2 separate regions of the Homo sapiens genome follow, and region 2 is linked to region 1. Evidence: fine-mapped expression QTL. A gene starts in region 1. The other region holds a variant in brackets. All regions are shown on one strand. Distances are from middle to middle. Region 1 holds the start of MB21D2 (Mab-21 domain containing 2). Region 2 has its middle 30 kb from the start of MB21D2.

Region 1 (4,391 bases):
GCTCATTTCGCCATCTGCCTTCTAGTGTCCAGAGGGGCAAAAGGCTTAAATGACACTCTCTTGAATCTTCTCTCCTGCAGGTGGAAATGCTAAATTCCCAGGGGGCAAGAAAGACTGCTTGCAAGGTCAACTGGGTAAAAAGGAATAGAAGCAAATCTAGTTTACCTGTCAACACAATGCCACCCATGGCATTAAACACATGCAAAAATTAAGCACCCTAGAATAATTTACTTTTTTATATTTGGATAAAAGCTTTGCTGATTCAGTGTATCAGCTTTGGAGTTAAGCACAGAAGTTCCTCATGAGCCAGGCACTTAAATTTACCCTCCCTACATTATCCCATTTCCTGACCCATGACTACCCTAACTGGTGGTGACCCAGTACCTTCTTCTAGTAAATGACCTACGCAAGTGACATCAGAACTGATCTGGGGGCTGTATTAACACAATGGCAGACTTCCATTATTTATGCCACAGAGAAAGGCTATGATTAACTAAACAACTTAAGTAACTGCGCTCAGCCTTCTGTGTGTGGCCCCACCTTCCTGACAATCACTGTGTTGGCTTTTGGCTTTGTAAGCATTTTAGGCTTCCCTGTGGAAGCTCACTCCTACCAGGTTTTATATATATATATATATATATATTTAATTCATCTATTCATCTACATAGTTGAACGGCTGAATCTCTCAATAGTTTTTCAACCTCATACGCAACGTAAGACACACTTGAAGAGTGCGGCGCAAAAGGTAAAAACCAGCCTAGAGTTTTAACATGTTTCATCTAACTTCCCAACGCGTGAACAACTACCAGCGGACACAGACACGTTCAGTCTGTATTACCCCGTCCTTGGGCAGTGAGGAAGAAGAAAACCTAGAAGGAAGAAGGTATCCCAGGATAGAAGCAGCAACAGCCGGCTGAAACCCAATTAGATTGCAGGAGAAAGAGAAAAGCCCTGTCTTAGTCTGTGGCCAAAAGACCTTTCCCAATCAAATTTTTCAACACCTGGAAAATTGGCTTATCTATTTGTAGAGAGCACCCAGAGACGAGCGTTAGAGCAGCGCTACCCTGGAGTACCAGTTCTTCGGAATGTTGACCGCCGGCCACGCACCGCTTGACAGCCACGGATCCGCTGGCGGAGCCGCAAGTTACAACCCAGGCGCCTGGCAAACTCACACTACACCTCAGTAGCAATAATCCCAACGGCAGGACACCTGGGGAGGGTGGGCTCGGTCTCCCGGGCCTGGCTCAATTATGTTCCTTTACACAGCATTCAATCATGTTTCAGGAGCCGTAGGTGAGGGGCTGGAGGTGGGAGTGGGGGACACATTTTCTAGCCCCCGACGTCTCCGCGGTTGGAAACTCTGGGCACCTCTTTCGGCCAGCGCTAAGACAATACACAAAGAGCAGGGAACCGGCGCTCCTCTGCGGCCAGAGCTCCGCGCCTAGTCACGGAAGAGCTGGGAATTAAGAATTCCGAGCTCAGCGAGAGCCCTGAAGAAGCACCGGAAATGCTTCCGATCGCTTCATAAGAGAAGTCAATTTGCAAATCAAAGTTGCAGGAACTCCGGACGCCTAGACTACTTCAGCGGGTTACTCGGGAACACCCAACAAGTTTGGCCACCGGGGGCTCGGCATGACAGCGCCGCGCCGCGAGACGACAGAAGCAACTTGTCGCTCGGGCGCCAAGCCAGAGCCCTGAGCCGTCTCCGCTCCCAAGCTCGGGAGAGCACCCAAGAGCCGGCGTCGGGAAAGCGGAGGTCCCTGCCTCCGGCAGCCAAATCCCTCAACTGAAGGCACCTCAGGGGCTCACCTGGACTGCACTCGCTTCCAGGGGCTTCCCCCAACAGTGCAACGCTTCACCGCGAACGCCTCACCTGCCTGCCAGCCCCAGGTGGCGGAGAAATTAACAAAAGAGCAAGCGAACAGGGGGAAAGGGAGACCCGGCGTAAAGTATAGTAAGGAGGGGAGGGCAGGCAGCTCGGCTTTCGGCGGAGAAAGAAGAGAGAGGCGGAACAGAGATGGCTTATACCCAAGGCACCGGCTCGGGAAGGCAACCCAGAAGGGAAGAGGTCGAGAAGCGGCAATGGGTTTTCTACTCCGCTTCCCATCACACACACACACGCACACACACCTCCCCCTTTTTCCTCCTTACCCAGCATGGAAAAGATGAAATCCTTGGCTGTGTGAATCTCCAGCGCTCTCTGGTCGTCGTATTCCCGCTGGTCGTGCTTCGTAAATTCTTGGATGAGTTTGTTCAATTCCTCCACCCGAGCTCCCGACCTGAAATCCAGCTCCGGGAACGCAGGCTTGTTGTTACAGCCCAGGGAGGCTGCCTTGTTGGCGGTGGGAGCCGCCATCTTCATGCAAAACGCGCCGAGTAGCAGCTCCGCGGCAGCGCGGCACCCACCCCCGCCCCCCACCCCGCCCCCCTGGGCCTCCTCCCCTCGCAGGCTCCCAGGCTTTGGCCCCGGCTCGTGGGCGGGTTGGCGGGCGGGCGTCTGGGCGGGCAGTCCCCCGCTCCGTGCGCTCTGGGCGTGCGAGCTTCGGGAGGAGCTGGACTGCAGCGAGGGTGCGTGTGTGGCCCCGACACCCTTTTCTCCGGCCCCACGCCCGCCCCGATGCTGCGCGTCCCTGCCCTGCCCTGGCCCTCTCTGGCAGCGGCAACGGCGGTCGTAGAGCCAACTGGAGCCTCCCCCGGGCGAGGAAAGTGAAGTGGAAACAATGTGAAATTCACCAGCTCTGAAATCAACAAGCTGCCGGCTCCGGTGTTACGGAGCCAGCACCAGCGTCTCCATTTAAAGGGACAGCGCACCCAGTGGAAAGGAAAATAAATAAATGACAGAGGTCTGCACGCATATACCACTTGCCAATCCGTACTTGGGAAGACGCGCGAGGTGTGGATGCATTCTTTCTCCACCTCCACGGCCGTCCCCCCATCCCCTTTCTGGGCAGGGTTTGCCAAGCGCATTCAAGGAGAAGAAAGTCTTCCTCCGTTTGATTTTAAGGGCGGTGTCCTGGGGGAGGACATCTCTGTGCGCGTTTACCTCTCTATCCCAAGAACTCCAATACCTTTAAATAGTAAAGGAAACTGCCTTAAGGAATATGAAACCTGTCTTCTACCCTTTTCCTCTTGGATTGCCAAGATGATAGGATTGAGCGTATAAAAAAAGAGGGTCCACATCTAACCCAGTATTGGCACTCCCACTAACCCCTAGATATCCCTACCTTTGCCCAAGGTAATTAATGACCTGAATAACAGCTTATTTATCTTAACATATAATGAGTTAATGAGATTCAACCTACTCTAATATAAAGATAGGGAAACTGAAGTGTGGGTGTGGGAGAGGGGAAACAATGTATTGCCCCAGGTTCCAAGAAATGTTGGATGACAAGATGAAAATTTTCTCATTCAACAGATAAAATTTGAGTACGCACCATTTGCCAGATGGAGTGACAGAATGTGACAGTGATAACCAAAAGACATGGCTCCTACCATGGAGTTAGGCTTACATGACAAGGCAGGTTCAATCTAAGTCATAGTCCTTTAGGCAGAATAGAGTCTCAGAGGTGGTTTTAGTGTTTATGGGGTGTATCATTCAAACACTTAGGAGGCCCATTGGCTGTGAGAAACATAGGTTATCTTCCTCCCTAATTCTCCAAAATCTCTCTTCTCTATCCCACAGTCCCTGATTTAGATCAGGTCTGTTTCACTTTCTTACCCGAGTTCTCATGGCCAAGAATACAAATTGTTTTGTTAGACATGGAAGGAAGTACGGACTCTTCCATGCCTTCCCCTATAAAATGGGAATAATAATTCCTGTCTCACAGGTTGTTTTAAGGATTACGTGAGATAAAACAGGTCAAGCACTTAGTTCAAGGACTGACATAATAAGTACTTAGCTATTATCAGCTTCTACTATTATTGTTATTAATTCTTTCACTGTTCCTCAATCTAGTAACAACTTGTTGCCAGAGTGATCTTTAGAAAACACAGACCTGACCACTGACCTCCCCCTGGAATTCCTCTCTTCTTTACTCCGTTTACACCAAAACCAATCCGCGTCTGCCTTTTTCTTACAGCTTTCCGGAGACCCTCCCCTCAAGCTGGTGGCAACTTTTCCTTCCTCAGAACCTACTCTCAGAAGCTTTCATATGATGCTAATGAATTTTGACCTTGCTTCATCATTGCTTTTTGTTTTGGGTTGTGTGTGTGTGTGTTTGTTTGTTTCTGAAACAGGGTCTTCCTCTGTAGCCCAGGCCAGAGTGCAGTGGCACAATCGTGGCTCACAGCAACCTCAACCTCCTGGGATTAAACAGTCCTTGCATCTAGATCTCTCAAAGGGATTACAGGCGTGAGCCACCACACCTGACCACTTCATCATTGTTAATGCA
Region 2 (4,391 bases), 30 kb after region 1:
TGTAAAATAGCAAATATTTAGACTGTGCTGCTACGTAGAAAAATATATGTAAAATGTTAAGCAAAAACAGAACTCTAGAAAGCAAGCATCCAGGGATAATATCCCCATAAAAATTATATATACACAGTGAAGATAGAAGAGATGACATAGAGTTGGAAATCACGATTCTGTAATGGGGACGAGGTGCTGTGTTTACGTTTCCACAGAGGTCGTTATTTATCCAAAGTGGAGTTTAAATAAATAGAATAAATACACTCTCTTTTCCCTCTGCTCAGAGATACAGTCCAGTGCTTATAACTCCTCAGAGCTGGAAAGTCTTTCCATGCAAGACTTTTCTTTATACTATAATTTTAATCCAATTTTCCTTTAATTCATTGTTTATGAAGATTGGGAACCGTGGAGCAGCAGCTGTGATGAAACAACTCACTGTCTCTGCAAACAGAGGTCTCTGCTTCTACTTCTCATGGGGTGGTGAGATGATGGGCTCCTCTTTTGGGGGCTGCTTTGTCCCACACTCAGGGCTCAACCTCCTCTGTAGTGGGCCCTCAGCAGCACCTGACACGCAGCAAGAGTCTGAAAGTGACTTTTCTTCCTCTCTCTCCTCTTCCCTTTCCTCTCCTCACGCTCTTGGAGGCCAGAGTAGGAAGAAATGATATGCAAGTTATGAGAGACGGAGTCCTGAACTTGACTTCATTAGAATTTCATGTACATCATTGTGTGTGTGTGTGTGGTGTGTGTGGAGAAAAGCTTAATGTGAGCAGAGAACATTTTTCTATGGGGATGGGGATTGGGAAGACTCGTGATACGCCCTATTCTCATTTGTTTATCTGGGAGCCCAGTTCTGTGTTTGGTCATGTGACTGGTCTTGGTTTAAACTCTCTAACGGCCTCCTCTAGCACTTAGAGTCAAGCCTAACTTCTTGTCCTGGTGGCAGAGCCCTCCTGCAACCTGCCCCTGCTCACCTCTCAGAACTTGCCTCACACCTTTTCCTTGGCTCACCACTTTCTAGCTAACTCAGTCATTTTTGTTTGTTTCTCAAACATGCTAAACTTGTTTTCATCTACAGCTTTTTAGACTAACAGTCTAGAATACTCTTCCTCTCCATGTTCACCCATTTGGTTTCTTCTTGTCTTTCAAACCTCAGTGTAAATGTCACCTCTTCAGAGAAGCATTCTCTGGCCATGCAATCTAAGATACCTGAGTCATTCTTTTACCTTACCCAATTCTGGTTCTCTGAAGAATGGCCATCTGGTTTTGTGTTCTTTGTTTAGATATTATTTGTTTGCTGTTTGACATAATCTTTGAAGAAGGGAGAACCTTGTGTGCCCTGTTCTTCTGTTCTTCCCCAAATTCTGTAATAGTGCCCAATACAGAGACACACTCAATAAGTATGTTGCATAAATATATATGAATGCACAGTGAATGTTAGGTTAACGGGGGCTTCCAGGTGGTTCAGGAAGAGCAAAAGCTGCAAACGACAGCCGGACTTTTCTCTCTTGAGCTGAAAAGTAGGGCAGACCCATTGCTTTTCCACCCCTTTGTACATCAAAAACCATATTATTAACATCCTCCAGGTGGTAAAAGAAAAGAGGACACTAGCTGATCTATCTGTGCCATATAGTTTTTTGGTTCAGAATATTAACTACTTGGAGAATTACACACACACTATCAGATTTAAAGACTTACTATAAAGCTACAGTAATCTCAGGACAGTATTGACCAGTGGAACAGAATCAAGAGCACAGAGACATCTGTAGAAATATGGTCAATTGATTTCTGGCAAGCTTCCAAAGACAATTAATGGAAGAGAGGATTTGTCTATTCAACAAAGGATGATGAAACAATTGGTCATCCATATGCAAAGCCAAGAACTTTGACCAAAACTTCAAACTTTATATAAAAATAATTCAAAATGAATCATAGAGCTAAATGTAAAACATGAAACTATAAAGCCGTTTTTGGTAGTTTTTTTTTTTATTATTATTATTTTATTTTTCTTTTTGTTTTTGAGACAGGGTCGCCCAGGCTGGAGTGCAGTGGCAAGTACACGGCTCACTACAGCCTGGGGCTCCTGGGCTCAAGGGATCCTTCTGCCTCAACCTCCTGAGTAGCTGGGACTACAGGTGGGTTTCATCACGCCCGGCTAATTTTTTATTTTTATGTTTTGTAGAGCCAGGGTTTCACCATGTT[G/C]CCCAGGTTGCTCTCAAATTGCTGGGCTCAAGTAATCTGCTGCCTCGGCCTCCCAAGTGTTGGGATTACAGGCATGAGCCACGAGGCTCAGCCCTATAAAACCTTTCAAAGAATTGATAGGACCAAAATGTTTTTGACCTGAAGTTAGGCAGACAGGCTTTTTGTTTTATTTATTTTTTTAAGTGACTTAAAAATATTTACTTATTACAAATTTATTATCTTACACTTCTGAAGGTAAGTCTTAAATGGGTTTCATTAAGCTAAAATCAAGATGTCAGCAGGGCTGCGATCCTTCTGGAAATTCTAGGGGAGAAACTGTTTCTCTGTCTTTTCCAGCTTCTGGGGAGGCCTGCATTCCTTGGCTCGTGGCTCCTTTCTCCATCACCAAAGCCAGTACCGTAGTGTCTTCCCATCACTTTCTCCTTCTCTCTGACCCAGACCCTCCTGTCAGAGAGTTCTCAAACAGGACACCAAGAACATGATCCGTTAAAACGAAAAGTTGATAAACTGGACTTCATAACAATTTAAGAAGTTTGCTTTGTAAAATACATTATTAAGATAATGAAAATACAAGCTATGAACTGGATGATGAAAATAGTTGTGAATCATATTTCTGATGAAGGACTCCGAATATATAAAGAATTCTTAAAACTCAATGGTAAGAAAAACACACTTTTTTAAATGGGCAAATATCTTGAATAGACACTTTGCTAAAGAGGATATAGATGGCAAATAAGCACAGAAAGGGATGTTTAGCATCTCTTTAATGAGCACATGAAGAAGTTCAAATAGAAAAAATGCAAATTAAACCACCATGAGATACTATTAAACACTTTTTAGAAAGGCTGAAATTAGGCCAGGCACGGTGGCTCATGCCTGTAATCCCAGCACTTTAGGAGGCGGAGGTGGGCGGATCACCTGAGGTCAGGAGTTCAAGACCGGCCTGACTAATATGGTGAAGCCCTCTCTCTACTAAAAATACAAAATTAGCCTGGCATGGTGGCACATGCCTGTAATCCCAGCTACTTGAGAGGCTGAGGCAGGATAATCACTTGAACCCGGGAGGTGGAGGTTGCGATGAGCCGAGATCATACCATTGCACTCCAGCTTGGGCAACAAGAGTGAAACTCCATCTCAAAAAAAAAAAAAAAAAAAAAAAAAGGAAGAAAGAAAAAAGGAAAAGAAAGGCTGAAAAGAAAAAAAGAAAACAGTAACTGACAATACCAAGTGCTGATAAGGATGTGGAGGCACTGGAGCTGTAATATTTTGCTGGTGAGAAGTCAAGATACAACCATTCTAGAAAAGGTTGGCAGTTGTAAGGTTAAACAAATGCTTACCATGTGACCCAACAACCTGACTCCTAGGTATTTATCCCCACAAAACAAACACTTACCTTTACACAAAATCTTACATGTAATGCGTATAGCGACTCTATTCATGATCTCCAAAACCTGAGACAGCTCAAATTTCTTTCAACAGATGAATGGATAAATAAATGTGATACATCTGTATTACAGAAAATTACTCAGCAATGTAAAGGAAGAGACTATCGTTCCATGCAGCAGCAAGAATGGAGTTCAAAGACATTATACTGAGTGGAAGAAGTCAGTTCGAAAAGGTTATATACTACAAAATTCCATTTATGTCACATTCTCACAAAGAAAAAGACTATGTGACAGAGACCAGATCACTGAGTTCCAGGGGTTAGCATGGGAGGAAGGTGTGATTACAAATGGGTAAAGCGATGGTACTGATTTGTATACTGATTGTAGTGATGCTTGCATGAATCTACACACGTATTAAAATTCTTAGAACTGTACATCAGGAAAGCCAATTTTATTATATAAAATTTAAAAAAAAATTTAATGAAAGAACTAATAATTATCAAGACCTTGAATCCAGATTCCATTACTTTATAGCTGCGCTATATTGAACCAGGTACTATTTTCCTTAAGCCTCAGTTTTCTCATCACCTAAAATGTGTATAAGAGTATCTACATCGTGGCCGGGCGCAGTGGCTCACGCTTGTAATCCCAGCACTTTGGGAGGCCGAGGAGGGCGGATCATGAGGTCAGGAGATCGAGAACATCCTGGCCAACATGGTGAAACCCTGTCTCTACTAAAATACAAAAAATTAGCAGGGTGTGGTGGCGCGTGCCTGTAGTCCCTGCTACTCAGGAGGCTGAGGCAGGGGAATCACT

What was found. PIP is the estimated chance that this variant, and not a neighbour inherited with it, causes the effect. A credible set is the group of variants that fine-mapping cannot tell apart.
Region 2: its variant is the best candidate, but not a certain one, in a credible set for the expression of MB21D2 in monocytes after Pam3CSK4 (Quach 2016, PIP 0.75).

What each region holds. Positions count from the first base shown.
Region 1 is chr3:192,915,479-192,919,869 of GRCh38, forward strand. It overlaps MB21D2 (Mab-21 domain containing 2), which reads right to left and starts at 2,378. Exons shown (of 2, transcript NM_178496.4): 1 at 2,152-2,378. The coding sequence starts at 2,362. RefSeq lists an enhancer at 1,344-1,673 and a silencer at 2,324-2,683.
Region 2 is chr3:192,945,806-192,950,196 of GRCh38, forward strand. No RefSeq gene overlaps it. Among named protein-coding and RNA genes, the nearest start is that of MB21D2, 30 kb to the left of the region's middle. The variant G/C (reference allele first, on the strand shown) is at 2,191.